3 separate regions of the Homo sapiens genome follow, and all the other regions are linked to region 2. The links come from fine-mapping of genetic effects on gene expression. A gene starts in region 2. Each other region holds a variant in brackets. All regions are shown on one strand. Distances are between the middles of the regions.

What was found. PIP is the estimated chance that this variant, and not a neighbour inherited with it, causes the effect. A credible set is the group of variants that fine-mapping cannot tell apart.
Region 1: its variant is the best candidate, but not a certain one, in a credible set for the expression of CMTM6 in tibial nerve (GTEx, PIP 0.69).
Region 3: its variant is the best candidate, but not a certain one, in a credible set for the expression of CMTM6 in whole blood (INTERVAL, PIP 0.66).

The regions. Positions count from the first base shown.
Region 1 is chr3:32,577,130-32,582,412 of GRCh38, forward strand. LOC124906226 (a long non-coding RNA gene) reads left to right here and starts at 1,579. Exons shown (of 2, transcript XR_007095860.1): 1 at 1,579-1,616; 2 at 1,863-2,480. The variant A/G (reference allele first, on the strand shown) is at 2,615.
Region 2 is chr3:32,500,025-32,505,307 of GRCh38, forward strand. It overlaps CMTM6 (CKLF like MARVEL transmembrane domain containing 6), which reads right to left and starts at 2,828. Exons shown (of 4, transcript NM_017801.3): 1 at 2,584-2,828. The coding sequence starts at 2,721. RefSeq lists silencers at 2,539-2,768, 2,839-2,928.
Region 3 is chr3:32,479,365-32,484,647 of GRCh38, forward strand. It overlaps CMTM6 (CKLF like MARVEL transmembrane domain containing 6), which reads right to left. Exons shown (of 4, transcript NM_017801.3): 4 at 1,948-4,733. The coding sequence ends at 4,596. Among named protein-coding and RNA genes, the nearest start is that of CMTM6, 21 kb to the right of the region's middle. The variant T/TAA (reference allele first, on the strand shown) is at 2,006.

The sequences.
Region 1 (5,283 bases), 77 kb after region 2:
CTCGACCTCCTGGACTCAAGTGATCCTCCCACCTCAGCCTCCTGAGTAACTGGGACTACAGGTGCAAGCCACCACGCCCAGCTAATTTTCAAAGTTTTTATAGAGACAGGGTTTTGCTTTGTTACCCAGGCTGATTTTTGTTTGTTTGTTTTGTTTTGTTTTGTTTTGTTTTGGTAGAGAGAAGTTCTCACTATGTTACCCAGGCTTGTCTCAAACTCCTGGACTCAAGCCATCTTCCTGTCTTAGCCTCTCAAAGCACTGGGATTACAAACATGAGCCATCACACCCAGCCTTAACCATTTTAAAAATATAAATCACTTAAAAGTATATTACACACCCCACTCCTTTCCTATTTTAACAAGTTATATAAATATAGATTTATGTTTTCCTGAAGGCCCTTGGCTTCCTTAGGCTCATCAATAATACTACCGTGTTAAATCTGGGAAGTGCTTAGGTCCTACTGGGATTCCCCGGGTGTATCCCAGATGGCTCTGCCTTTTAGTTTGGTTTCTAATTCAGCTGAGACTCAGGGCTTGTAAGTGGGAAATGGAACACTAGCCAAAAGTGAGACAGCTCCTCCTCTCTCCAGCTTCCTGTCTCCCAAGAGCTACACGTCTCTCCTCTCTGCTTGCTTCTCTTCTCTCCTCTCTCTCTGTCGACCAGCGTCCTCTGCAAACTCATCAGCTTTCTCAAGGTCACATTGGGTATTTCTCTATCTCAAGAAAAGTGATCACTGGACAGACACAAGAGCTCTGCAGAAAACTAGTTTGACTGGGAGGGGAACTTTCCGTAGGTCTGGAGGTGGGTACTGCAGAACCACTTCCTCTTTCTTTTGGGGATGCCTCCTTCTCTGTTTGGGAACCAAAACAAGGCAGCTACCACTTGGGCTGCTTCCTATTATATCAGTTCCACAGGCTGCCACAAGCAGATTTTCAAATAAAACCTGCTTCACCCATGGTGCCAAATGCTGGCAGTCACAGTTGATATAAATGCTGGCTGAAAAGCCAAAATCAAAAGAAAAAGGAAGTAAGCAAGATGAGTGGACCCTTAAAGTTTCACTCTGAGCAATTCAAATGATAGCGTTGAAAAGGACTTCAGAGTTTAAATAGTCCCATCCTCTACACAATATGTGAATCTTTTTTTTTGGTAACATTCCTGACATTTGAGACAAACTGATAATGCTAGAATTTGCAGAGTCCTTGCTAGCCGTCTCTCCCAGCAGACCCAACCAGGGATCCCATTAAAGACGAGCAAACACCCACGGTTGCTTATATTTGCTTTCCTTTGAGTCATGTTTTTCTCATTCTAAGTACCTCCTTAGAATGAATGAAATGATGGGTATCTAATTCATTTTGCAGTCACCAGCCCCTCTAATTACAGACCTATCCTTCCTCTTGCTTCTCACCTAGGGATTTTTATCAAGTGGACCCTCACAGAACATCATATCTTAGTGAGAGGTGACAGCGTGCTGGCAGCTCTCGCTCGCTCTCGGCACCTCCTCTGCCTGGACTCCCACTTTGGTGGCACTTGAGGAGCCCTTCAGCCCACCGCTGCACTGTAGGAGCCCCCTTCTGGGCTGGCCAAGGCCGGAGCTGGCTCCCTCAGCTTGCAGGGAGGTATGGAGGGAGAGGCGCGAGCGGGAACCGGGGCTGCGCGCAGCGCTTGCAGGCCAGCTGGAGTTCCGGGTGGGCGTGGGCTTGGCGGGCCCCGCACTCGGAGCAGCCGGCCGGCCCTGCTGGCCGGGCAATGAGGGGCTTAGCACCTGGGCCAGCGGCTGCGGAGGGTGTGCTGGGTCCCCCAGCAGTGCCGGCCCACCGGCGCTGTGCTTGATTTCTCGCCGGTCCTTAGCTGCCTTCTCTCAGGGCAGGCCTCGGGACCTGCCGCCCACCATGCCTGAGCCTCCCCGACGAGCGCTGCCCCCTGCTCCCCGACGCCCAGTCCCATCGACCACCCAAGGGCTGAGGAGTGAAGGCGCAGGCGCAGGACTGGCAGGCAGCTCCACCTGCGGCCCCAGTGGGGGATCCACTGGGTGAAGCCAGCTGGGCTCCTGAGTCTGGTGGGGATTTGGAGAACATTTATGTCTAGCTAAGGGATTGTAAATACACCAATTGGCACTCTGTATCTAGCTCAAAGTTTGTAAACACACCAATCAGCACCCTGTGTCTAGCTCAGGGTTTGTGAATGCACCAATGGACACTCTGTATCTAGCTAATCTAGTGGGGGGCCTGGAGAACTTTTGTATCTAGCTCGGGGATTGTAAATGCACCAATCAGCAGCCTGTCAAAACAGACCAATCAGCTCTCTGTAAAACAGACCAATCAGCTCTCTGTAAAATGGACCAATCAGCAGGATGTGGGTGGGGCCAGATAAGAGAATAAAAGCAGGCTGCCCAAGCCTGTAGTGGTAACCCACTCGGGTTTGATTGCCTACTGGGGAAGGTTTGTTTTTTCCTTCTTTGCAATAAATGTTGTTGTTGCTCACTTTTTGGGTGCGTGCTGTGTTTATGAACTGTAACACTTACTGCGGAGGTTTACAGCTTCCTTTCTGAAGTCAGTGAGACCGTGAACCCAGCAGAAGGAGGAAACTGTCTCAGCATCCGAATGTCACAACGAGC[A/G]AATCCACGTGCGGCGCCTTTATGAGCTGTAACACTCACTGTGAGGGTCCACGGCTTCTTTAAGTCAGTGAGACGAAGAACCTGTCAATTCCAGACACATCAGCACAGAGAGATGGAGAAATACCTAAAAGAAAGTAGAAATAGACTCTTTTAACGTGTTTGTTTTTTCAGAGAAACCGCCAGAAAGTGCCCGGGGCAGTGGCTGTCGCCTGTAATTCCAGCACTTTGGGAAGCAGGAAAGGGCAGATCACTTGTGGCCAGGAGTTCAAGGACAACTTAGCCAACACTGTGAAACCCCATTTCTACCAACAATACAAAAATTAGCCAGACATACTGGGGCATGCCTGTAATCTCAGCTACTCAGGAAGCTGAGGCAGGAGAATCGCTTGAGCCTGGCAGGTGGAGGCTGCAGTGAGTCAAGATCAAACCAGTGCACTCCAGCCTGGGCAACAAAGCGAGACTGCACCTTAAAAAAAAAAAAATGCTTTTATTTTTACGTCTAATGTGAAATCCCACCTTTCTTAAAAAAAAAAAAAAAGTACTGGTAGGTGTATGTGTGCATGCAAGTATACTTTAGGACAAAATTTTACAAAGAAATATTTTTTTGTTTGGTTGTGGTTTGTGTTTTTGAGATGGAGTTTCACTCTTGTCATCCAGGCTGGAGTGCAACAGCTCGCTCTCGGCTAACTGCAAACTCCGCCTCCCGAATTTAAGCAATTCTCCTGTTTCAACCTCCCAAATACGTGGGATTACAGGAGTGCATCACTGTGCCACCTAATTTTTTTGTATTTTTAGTAGAGACAGGGTTTCACCATGTTGGCCACGTTGGTCTCGAACTTCTGACCTCAGGTGATATGCCCACCTCATCCTCCCAAAGTGCTGGGATTACAGGCGTGAGCCACCGTGCCTGTCGAAGAAATTGCTTTTCATTGGCTTAGAAATGTATCATTGAGAAATAACCGTCTCTGAATATATATTTTTTAATTCCAGGATAAGGTAATAGTAGAATTGCCTTTCATTTCAGACTGAACTTCTCACCACAATATCCATATTCATTCTTGGAAAATGGATGATGAATGGAAGGATAGTAACCTATAAAATCAACTCATACAGCAGCTTGAGTGGGCAAATTATGTTAATGTTAAGTGAGATGCACAGGGAAAGCAAAGACACTTGTCTTTTAGGCTGGAAGCATTCTTTAAGTGTTTTAATTATCTACTTACACATTTTTCAATACTAAACAGATAGGAATTTTAGGGTGCTTAGTTATCATTGTTTTAATCTATTCTTTGCCACTGAAAAGAAGAAAGAAAAAGGTCCACTGACTAATGTATTGTTAATTGCATATTTATTATACATATTTTTGGAGGATCTAATTTTCTTGTAATCAAATACTCCGAAGTTCAAGTCCATTACCTTTATTTAGTGATTTTAGTACCACTTAGTTCTCAGATTTCCAGTGTTACACTCTACTGCCCTCTTTGCTTCCTAAAGGAAAAGATATTTAATAACTAATTTTATAGATTGAGATCTGCCAACACTAGGTCACAAAGGTAATTAAGTTTTTCTTCTTTGGAGGCTCTGCGTTAGGCAAAAAAGGGAAAAAATATAATTCTCTGGTATTTTTAGAAATGTGCTATCTTTTGTAGCTGCAGGTGATTTCATATTCATATCAATTTAGTCTACTTTAGTCTAGAGCTAATTATGACTTCTTGTTGCTTTTACTAAAAGTAAGCCTAGAATTATAGTCTATTATATTCTCCACCAACCAAAACATTATGTATGTTTCTTTTTTCCTCACACGGGAAAGTGAATGAAAGAATTGCCCAGTGGGAATTTTTTATAAGCAAAATAAATCCATTCTTTTACACCATACAATGTTACAAAGTTGTTTATTTGAAGATATTTAAGGAGATTCTAAGGATCCTAAACTTTTTGCTACTGGGAACAAAAAGTTAAAGTTGACTAGTAATGTGAAAGTGGAATCCAGAAGCACTTTGTCTTTTATGATCCTTCCTTAGTAAATCCCAGGATTATTTTGAGGGGTCAGCTTCATCCTATATTCAGTTCACCTATTGGTAAATGAGGACTATCCAGATAAACTACTGGAATTTTCACTCTGATATATACATATATATGTAAAATTTTCATCCTGATATACATATATAAAAATATATATCAATATAATATAGATATAATATGTATGTAAAAATATATCAATATAATATATAGATATATATTAATATATTTATCTGAAATACATACAAATATATATAAATATCTATCTCTATATAGATATATAGAGATAGATAGATAGATTTTTTTTTGAGACAGAGTTTTGCTCTCATTGTCCAGGCTGGAGTGCAGCTGTGCAATCTTGGCTCACTGTAGCCTCCACCTCCCAGGTTCAAGTGATTCTCCTGCCTCAGCCTCCCTAGTAGCTGGGATTACAGGCTTCCACCACCACGCCCGGCTAATTTTTGTATTTTTAGTAGAAACAGGGTTTCATCATGTTGGCCAGGCTGGTCTCGAACTCCTGACCTCAGGCGATCTGCCAGCCTCAGCCCCCCAAAGTGCTGGGATTACAGGCGTGAGCCACTGTGCCCGGCCCACCAAAGGTAAGTCTTGAATCAAATTATGTTAATGTTAAATTGAGGAACATGGCAGTT
Region 2 (5,283 bases):
GGCTTTTCTCTTGTAGGATCTTTGAGATTCTGTTAAGATTTATGGGTCCAGAATAATATACTCAAACATATAAGTGTACAATATTTTGAATAAAATTTCACAGGGTTTGCAGGTCCCTTGTTAAAACACCTCCTCTTCTGATTACGGGTTTCTCCATTACAGTTGTTTCCTTACTGGAGCTCGCAATTCTGTTTAGTTTTTTAAAAAAATTAAACATTTAAAGTAAAACAACCAATCTATCTAAAGGAAGAATTTGAGTTAAGGCAAAGACCTTGCCTATAGCCCCAGGCTGGAAGACAACTTTTACCGACTTCATATGTAACCTTCTTGGGACTTGCTGGATAATTCCTGTAATATACTGTTACTGTGAAGAGATAAGACATTATCAAAACAAACAAAGGAACAAAAAGACAACCATCAAAGTGAAAGGCAGTAATGAAAAAGTACTTTTAAATCTCCACATTAAAGAAAGCATTCCTGTAACATGACAATTTCCCCATAAACAAATAAATGGATTTCATAAAGAGATATTAGTTTTTATTTTTTCTCCATTTCTTCTTATGAATGATGGAGAACTAATAATAGTCTAACGATCTTTTAAGGCAAATTCATCTTCTCTGTGTCCAAGTATAACATTTACCACAAAAATTTCTGGTTGTGTTCCATGTTTTCTTCTATAACAGCAATAAGGAAGGAAACTGGTTATGTTCTATTCCAAAGATACGAAACTACAGTTTACTAAACTATAAGAAGGTAATCAGAAAATTTACTTTAGCTTTGCCACTTTTTATTAGAAAGAAAATAATAAAGGCAACTGAAAACAGGAGATTTTGTGGGCAGCAAACCAATACAGATGATTTTTTTCGAGCAGCAAGAATGCTTCAGATGGGCTGGGCGCAGTGGCTTACGCCTGTAATCCCAGCACTTTGGGAGGCCCGGAGGGCGAAAATCACCTGAAGTCAGGAGTTTGAGACCAGGCTGGTCAACACGGCGAAACCCCGTCTCTACCAAAAAAAAAAAAAAAAATCAGCCGGGCATGGAGGTGCGTGCCTGTAGTCCCAACTACTCGGCACGAGAATTGCCTGAACCCGGGAGGCGGAGGTTTCAGTGAGCCGAGATTGCGCCACTGCCCCCAGCCTTGGCGATAGAGCAAGACTCGGTCTCAAAAAAAAAAAAAAAAAAAGCTTCAGATGAATATTCTTTTCTGTTCTAAAGAGTTCTACTATTCACGTAGAAAATTTTAGCTTTACTGCAGAGAAATACAGCTAATACCTAAAAATCATCATGTGACAGCTGACAAGAGAAGAGAAGGAAGAAGGAAGAAGGTAGAAGGAACAGCTTATGCAAAGGAACAGTGGCAGGAAAGAGCCCCTGATGCCTCGTAATAAATTAAAGGTGGCCAGTGTGGAACCACCTAGAGGGAGACTGGGAGAAAGATAAGGCCAGATCCTACTGGGTTCCATAGGCCACATTATCACTTGCTTTCAAATGATTTCCCAGTCATCAGCAGATGTGATCATTTTGATCGCTAAACAGCAGTGCCGATTTTCCGACTTCTGTTTTTCTATTCAATAAAAGTAGGTCACTAGAGTTCTAAGAATTTAACTTCGGGTCATTTGAGTTGTAAGAATTTAAGTTCTTTCCAAGGAAACCAATGAGCTAATTTTTACTTAGAATGGTTAAAAAACAAAACAAAGTAAGACAAAACTCATAAACATCATAAGCATTCGGATTTTTCCTAAACTGGTTCTATTGCAGAAATAGAACCTAAACTGTTTCTATTTTTCCTAAACTGGTTCAACCATCAGTGGTTGGAACAGTACATAGGAGCCAACACGACTGTAAAGTGAATAATTTAAATCTCAAAGATGCTTTGATGTTTTCACGAACAGGTTTATGGTACTTCAACTGCTTAAAATAAACTCAATAAAATGGAAAGATGCATACCATGTCCTAGTTCAGCTATCCGCACATACTTACAAAAAGCTGTCCTTTTGACTTTCCACTTAGAACCCATATTGCTCAATTTTGAAATAATTCTTTTCCAGTCAATATAAAACTTTTAGAAGACAATTTACCGGACACACATACACACACATCTCAATGCCACGCGTGGTATCGCAGGACTTTGTCCAGCAAGTTAAACTGCCCCCATGGGCTCGCAGCAGGAAAACCGCAAGAGCCAGAGAAAGATAAACAGCGCTTCACAGTCTAAATACAGGCACTGTGGGCGATAATGCAGGGTAGCAGCAGAGAGAAGAGAGGAAAGTCGCCATAGAGGATGAGTGAAAGATGTTGAAGTGGCTGACTTGGGTCTCCGACGCATTTCCTGAGCCCGCCTAACAGGCTGGGTGGCCCCAGTTCGTGGGATCCCGATGGGGAGAGCCTTGGGACTGAGGGGCCGCCCGGCGGAAGGGCGGAGGGTAACGCCCCCTTCCCCAGGCTGAGAGGGAAGGAACTAGAGGTGTGGAAACCTCCTTTTACTGAACAACCAAGCTGAAACGAAGGAGCTCGGCGGCCTCCCAAGCCCGGGCCAGACCCCGCTCCCCAGCCCGGGCTCGCCCTCCCTGACCGCGGACTCACCAGCTGCAAGCCCTTGAGAACGCGCCGGAGCAATGGGAGCCGGCCCATGAAAAAGTAGGCAGCGAGGCCGCTCCGGGGGCCTCTGGCGGGGCCCGGGTCCTCCTCCGTAGTGGGGCTGTACACCGCTCCGTTCTCCATCGCCTCGGGCCGGGGAGCGCGGCGGCCGCAGCAACCGCGCCGTTGACTTCTCGGACTCCAGAAGTCCCCGGTAGCCGGGAGGCGGCCGTCACTTCCTGGGCCTTCTCCCCGGCTTCCGCCTGACTCCGCCCCTTCCCGCCCCCGCCCTTGGCCCGCCCCGCCCCCTCTCAGCAAATTTGCTTGTTAGCTGTTGGGATTCTTCCGACTTTCATCCAAGAATTGAGTTCTTTCTGTGAGCCTTTGATGGATTTCTCACCTCCCTCCATCTTTCATCCTCCTGACATTCATTCACTTAGTATTTTTGCGTACTTTCGGTGTGCAGTGAACCCCGTTCTAGGTACTTGGGTGACAGCCAAGTACTACCCAAAATCACAGGATCCCTAGTAACAGAGACAGACAATAAACAAGAAAACAGATGGATAGCAATTTCAGATAGTGATAAGTGACGTGAAAATATGATACGAAAATAATGGATTCAGCATTTCTGGTGGCTTGATAAATTTATTAAAAAAAAAAAGAAGATGGAGGAGGAGGAGAAGAGGAAGGAGAAGGAAAAAAGGATGGAGAATTGGGTGCTCTACTTAAATGGCCACTACTAAACTGAGTGGTCAGGAAAGGCCTCTCTGAGGACCATGATCTTTGAATTGAATGAGACTCAAAGTGTGAGAAGCCAGGCTTGTAAAGTTCTGGGGAGAGCCTTTCACGAAAGTGCAAATGTCCCGAGGACCAAATGAGTTTGACTCAATCTGAAGCCCAAAGGCCTGTGTCGCTAGGAATAAGTACGGGAGGAAAGGAGATGTTGGAGATGTAGGCAAAGGCCAGATAATGTGGAGGCCTTGCAGACCAAGGGAAGAATTCGTATTTCATTTGAAGTACAATGAGTTGTCTGTAAGGACTTTCAGAATCGCTCCCTCCCGCGTCTCCCGAAATTCCATTTAGGCTCACTTTTCAAAATCATTTCCTTTTTCTCTTTCTTGGTCACCAACTGCTACAGTCACATATGTTAATTTTGTGTGAACTTGTCAAGGAATGTAATTATATTTTAGCAACTGAAGTTGATTGAGTTACAGGATGTTCACAACAATATAAAGTAGGTTCGACAGTATAAAGTCGGTTACATTCATTTTCAAATGAGAAAACTGAGGCCAAGAGGCTGAAATCATATCCAAGGTCAAACAGCCAGGAGCAGCTGGAATGCAGGCCTAAGCAGTCTGACTCGAAACCTTGCTGCTAAACGCTAACCCAGAAAACGTCAGCTTCTAACTCATCTCTCCATTGGAGTCTCAAAACCCATGGAAGAGAGAAGGGGTTTCTGCTGCCATCAGCTGCTACATCTTCTCCGTGGCCCCAAACCTCCCTTTCTTCTTCCAGTAACAAACAAAAGCTCCCATTCAAATGAATAGAGACAAGTAGATACTGCCCTGCAGGGGCCACCTACAACCAGCCAGAACTACCCTTCTGTCTCTGATTACATGCACTCTGAATGTCCTCCCAAGGCCAAGATGCCACCAATTCTGTCCAACAAGGAAGGCCACTGTATTTTCACCAGGGCTACAAGGATTCATTGCCCCATTATTCTTCAAGTCACTATCATCCCAAATTAGACACTACTGATGTCTAAAAGTTCCTTTGAAATTCATCCAAAATTAAGATGAGTTGATGACTAGAGAGATGGATAAAAGATTTGTGATAGGCCAGGCGCAGTGGCTCACGCCTGTAATTCCAGCACTTCGGGAGGCCGAGGCAGGTGGATCACCTGAAGTCAGGGGTTCGAAACCAGACTGACCAACATGGTGAAACCCCGTCTCTACTAAAAATACAAAAATTAGCCGGGCGTGGTGGCGTGTGCCTGTAATCCCAGCTACTCGGGAGGCTGAGGCAGGAGAATCGCTCAAACCCGGGAGGTGGAGGTGGCAGTGAGCTGAGATCGCGCTACGGCACTCCGGTCTGGGCAACAGAGTGAGACTCCGTCTCAAAAAAAAAAAAAAGCAGGCCGGTCGCGGTAGCTCACGCCTGTAATCCCAACACTCTGGGAGGCCGAGGGGGACGGATCACGAGGTCAGGAAATCAAGACCATCCTGGCTAACACGGTGAAACTCCATCTCTACTAAAAATACAAAAAATTAGCCGGGCGTGGTGGCGGGCGCCTGTAGTCCCAGCTACTCGGGAGGCTGAGGCAGGAGAATGGCGTGAACCTGGGAGGCGGAGCTTGCAGTGAGCCGAGATCACACCATTGCACTCCAGCCTGGGCGACAGACCGAGACTCCGTCTCAAAAAAAAAAATCATTGTTAAAAAAACAACAACAACAAGGATCTCTAATAAAGCAACTGCAGTAACATATTAATGGTAATATTTAGGTGAAGTATACGGGTGTCCACTGTACAATTATTTCAGCATTTCTGTATGTTTGAACATTTTCAAAATAAAGTATTGGGAGGAAGTTACAAAGAAACAAGGATACTTTGAGACAAGAGAGAAGATGAACAGACTTCGTCAACCCTCTTGGTTTGTTTAGGGCACACTTATGCAATTCTCTAGGGGTCTCTGCTTCTCTTTGCATT
Region 3 (5,283 bases), 21 kb before region 2:
CAAGTGAAAAGACAATCAGGTTCACCAGAAACAGGAAGAATACAAAAAAAAAAAAAAAAAGAGGCACCATTTCAGTACCAGACGAGCAAAAATGTTAAGTTGAACTAATATTAAGTGCATTACAAGAGTGGGGAAACCAGCACCTCATTCACTGCTGAGGGAAATATAAACTGGGTCTACCCTTTGGAGATCCATCTGGAAATATTTAGCCATGCTGAAATCATAACGTACCTTCTGACCCACCAGACAATTTAACTTCTAAGTAGTTACCCACCATGTAAATTCTCACATGTGCACAAGAAGAGATGTTCAAATACATTTGTTCCCTGTAATGTTAAGATGGTCAAAAGCTGAAAATGCTGTTAGAATTTTTCTATCAGTAGGAGAATAAGTAAATTGTGACATATCCATACAATGAAATACCAAACAGCATTTAAAATGAATGAACCAGAGTTACAACCTTGAAGCAAATATGGCAAAATGTTATAATCTATTAAAGGTGAGTGAGTGGAGTCTACAACAGGTATTATCCTCTGTGCTTCCAGTACTTGAAATATTTCAGGCCAGGCGCCGTGGCTCATGCCTGTAATCCCAGCACTTTGGGAGGCAAGGCAGGTGGATCACCTGAGGTCAGGAGTTTGAGACCAGCCTGACCAACATGGTGAAACCGCATCTCTACTAAAAACACAAAAAAATTAGCAGGGTTTGGTGGCATGCGCCTGTAATCCCAGCTACTCAGGAGGTTGAAGCAGGAGAATCGCTTGAACCCGGGAGGCAGAGGTTGCAGTGAGCCAAGATGGCGCCACTGCACTCCAGCCTGAAGGATAGAGCAAGACTCTGTCTCCAAAACAAACAAACAAATTCAAAAATTTTAAAAAGTAGCTAAATATAAAAATGTTGGGGAAAAGACAATACTTCTCCCCCCACCCCGTTGTTTTTTTGTTTGTTTGTTTGTTTTTTTGAGATGGAGTTTTGCGCTTGTTTCCCAGGCTGGAGTGCAATGGCATGACCTCGGCTCACTGCAACCTCCGCCTCTGGGGTTTGAGCGATTCTCCTGCCTCAGCCTCCAAAGTAGCTGGGGTTACAGTCATGTGCCACCACACCCAGCTAAATTTTGTATTTTTACTAGAGATGGGGTTTCACCACATTGGCCTGGCTGGTTTCGAACTCCTGACCTTAGCTGATCCGCCTGCCTTGGCCTCCCAAAGTGCTGGGATTACAGGAGTGAGCCACTGCGCCCAGCCTCCCCCTTTATTATATCAATTTCTATGACACACATTACTGTACTTGTAGAAAAATTTGGCCACTGAATTCACCAATGTACCCAGATGTCTTATGAAATAAGTTTTTCTTACTGTTTAAGACACATTTAATTAGATTTTCTGCTTCTTGCAGCTTATTGCATATTGATACAATGCTCTTTATCAAAACAAAACTCAACTCTAAACTCTGAAGAATGTACAAATTCCAGTGAGTTCTTGATGACTATAAAGACCCTGTTATTCTCACACAGGGTGGAGGCAGGAATTTCGCAAACTACACAAATAGCTGTAGTTTTACCAGCACCACCCTAATAATTTTGCTTCACACTTTCCCAATCATTGAACAGTTCCTAAGATAATGTGCCTATTTTGTTTTTAGCATTGTTAGCCACATCTAGAAATGTGACAAGGAGTCTAAATTGCTTCTTTGGAAGTATTTAAAGCCATTTGTAAGTCTTCCTCTGTGGTTCCCTAAAAATGTTGTTTAAATGTGTATTCTAACTTTCCAACAAGAGGGACAGTTTATGGATGGGAAATGGATTTGTTTCTTTTCTATCCTAGATATATCTAAAATCTAGTATTCTATATAGGCACTCAACAAGATTGTGCAGCCAACTCCCACAACTACAGAGACAGCTTTTCATTTAAACATCACACTTCTGTAATAAACACTTACAAAGGTAAGAACGTTTTAATTAAATGGATTTATTTAAAAAGACTATAAAATCTGACATCAAGAGAGA[T/TAA]AAAAAAAAAAGACCCATAAGATTTAAATTGACAAATATAAAATGATTGGCTACAATGTAAAAATACATTTCCCAGCCCCCAAACAAAACACAAGTATAGTAATTATAAAATTTTTGTACTGTGAGTTCATTTCTCTTATAATTCTTGAGAACCATTCTAAGCAATCTATTTGTATAAAATATAAAATTTATCATAACTGTTAATTTAAAAATTATTTTAAATTTGAGTTTATTGAATTTGCCATTTTTTTGTACATAACAGTGGTTTCTGGTCCCAAGTTCCCCTTGAACTTATTTACTACAATGGTCTTTTTACTCCTATTTATTTCCTTCTACAATAGAAAAGAAAGGCTAACCATTCATGGGTCCCATAAAAAACAATGTGAAGGAAGGTTCTAAGAGTGACCAAATATACCAGTGAACATACTATCTTTCTGAAAAAGAAAGAATTAAGTGACCAACTAAGAGATCCACTTTTGCACCAATGAAACACATGGAGGTGAAACCTCAGAACAAGCGGAGCTTAAGCTCAATGACAGTATGTTTTATATGACAGGCCAGCTGAGAATGTATCTGTCAATCCTGACTAAGCCCAATACATGGGTGGTGACCCTGAGGTAGCCCAGATGATATGCTCTGAATTTTAGATAGGTCTAAATCACAATGGTACAGTCTGATGTGAAACTTTAGTCTACCTACCATAAACTCGTTTTCTGAATCAGTCCTTATTCATAATTAGACCCAAAACCCAGCTATTTCTCCTCTCTTAGATGACATGCCCAATAAAAACAGCATCCATGATTGGTTTCATTATCTCCCAATTAAGTAGTGGTGACACCACCACTAACACTAGTATCCAAACTCTGATACAAATCCTAAAGGTATTGAGTCAGTAAGACAGAGCAGAAGCTATGTTGGGCCATACTGACCAATTTCTGAGAACCACATTAGCCACATTCATGCAATTAAAACCCATCTAAGACACACAAATGGCAGATGAGAAAAAAAAAAAAGGATGAGGTCATTAAACTTTATCACTGGAAACATGATTCCACTGTTTCAAATAGGAAACCTACCCTGGGAGACTTCCACCAAAGTGCAGAAGGACCTGATGCACGGGCTCATCATCTTAACACTAGAGTCCCAAGTCAAAACTCTAGGAGGAGGATAAGAAAGGTCTAGTCTGTGAATCACCTGGACAGAAAGGTCATATCCCAAGTGCCCTGCCTATCTGTGACAGCTGCTAGCCAACAGACAATTCTGGTTATGAAGTTATCTCTTGAGAATGGCTTGATTCTCTTATGCCACCAACAGTATTAGTCTGGGCAGGGTTCCCTGGATATTTACTTTTTTTTTTTTTTTTTTTTGCCAAAGACAAACTAGAGCAATGCCTATGTAAGAACAAGGACTCTCAAGATCCTGCTACACAGTATTCACAATCAAAAGGGCCCAAGATTCAGGACCACCTAAAGACAACTGACAAAAAGTGTCAGAGCCAGAGGCCAACCTCTGCTAGATGAAGCAGCAGCACATGACTCCATTTCTATCTGATAAGGAGACAGAGAAGAGGCATCTCGAACAGATGAAAAACCAAAGGCTGGTGTCCTAAAAAAAACAGATTGGCTTCAAAGAAAACACTAAGGAAGACCCACAGAGCTGTATTAATTTTAGTAAAAATAATCATATGCCAACAGGGGAATTGAACCACTTTCTAAATCATAGTATGAACTCATCTCTTCAGATACTTGGTAAGTGGTCAAAGCTTGTTTTTATAATTACTTTCACTGTCTTGGGCAAAAAGTCTTTCTTATCTTTGGTCCTTAGGTGTGGTATCAGTTTCTTCCATTTTTTTATGTGTTACAAAACAATCTTTTTTTTACTTGACATCAACAACCAAGGTGCAGTATAAACACGAAGTTGCTGATATTGTTGCTTTTATACACATAAAATACCAACATCTCCCATACATTTTATAGGCTATACGAAGGTCTCAAAGAATTAATAACCGTTATCCAAAAATATTATAACATTTAAGGCTGAGTGAAATACAGTAAAGCCTGGTAATATATGTTAAGGAAAAAAACCTAGACCAACATTTTAAATATTGGTTTCTTAAATATGTTAAATTCCCATTAACAGAACATAATCTAAGCATCAAAACAAACAGCTAAGCAAATTAATTTAAAAATAAAACAATTTCTAAGTAGATGAATATAATCACGATGTTTATACAGCTATAAAGCATAATTTGGAAGCTAAGCCTAGTAAAAGAATGACCTGTAACAGAATGACAGAATCATTTATCAACCGTTGAGCTGTGTGATTTAAAAACAATTGTTTTCTCCTCCTCCCACCAAAATCTCCATTTGAGATAAGTTTCAATTATTATTTAAAAAAAAATTTTTTTTAACTTATCTGGCCTACTTTGTGGTGACTGACACAATATTGATAAAACTGCCTTCTTGACCTTCCCCTTGCTCTCCAAAAGAAGTGGTTTAAACAATTAACAAATTTTACAAGAGCTTCTGCCAGGGCTCAGGCACCACAATGCAGGGTCACTACCTTAGGTAACATCTGCTCCCCAGAGTCTTTAGGCATTAAGTGGCTCAGTGAGGGCTTCAGCCCTAGTGGTATTTTCAGGTTTTCTCAGCTGGGACTCCTGTCGTTTTTCATACAGCATAGTGATAAAGTCAAGTAGGAACATAAAACTTGCTATAAATCCAAACACCTGAGGAAAAAAAGGAGGAAAGGTTATATGAGAATTTTGGAATATAATCTTACATTTCCTACTTGGCTTGGAGAATGTTTCATATAAACAAGATGTTCATGAATTTTATCTTATACACGACTACTCTTTAATGGTAAAAAAAATTTTTTTAAGTCATCAAAAAATGGAAAGAAGTTATAAAAGAAAAACTTCCAGAATAATGGCTATTAGTCAAAGTCTCACAAAATATTAATGTTCTGCCTTATGTGTGCATGTTTATATGTGGAGGGCTAATATATGAAAGTAGGGTTAACAGATAAACATTAAATCCTATAAAATGATACAAAACAAAAATATTTGCATGGTTAGATTGACCCACAGATGCGATAAGGAAAATACGTGACTAGGCAACTCAGCCTAGGTGAAAATGAAAAAAGTTATTAATATCAAAACAGAAATTCCATTTTGAAGATACTATTAGGTTAAATTACTTAAATAATGTTCCAGTTGTCACACTGCAATGACACAGTGACATGACGCCACTACCTACTTCCTCTTCCTTAAATCACTT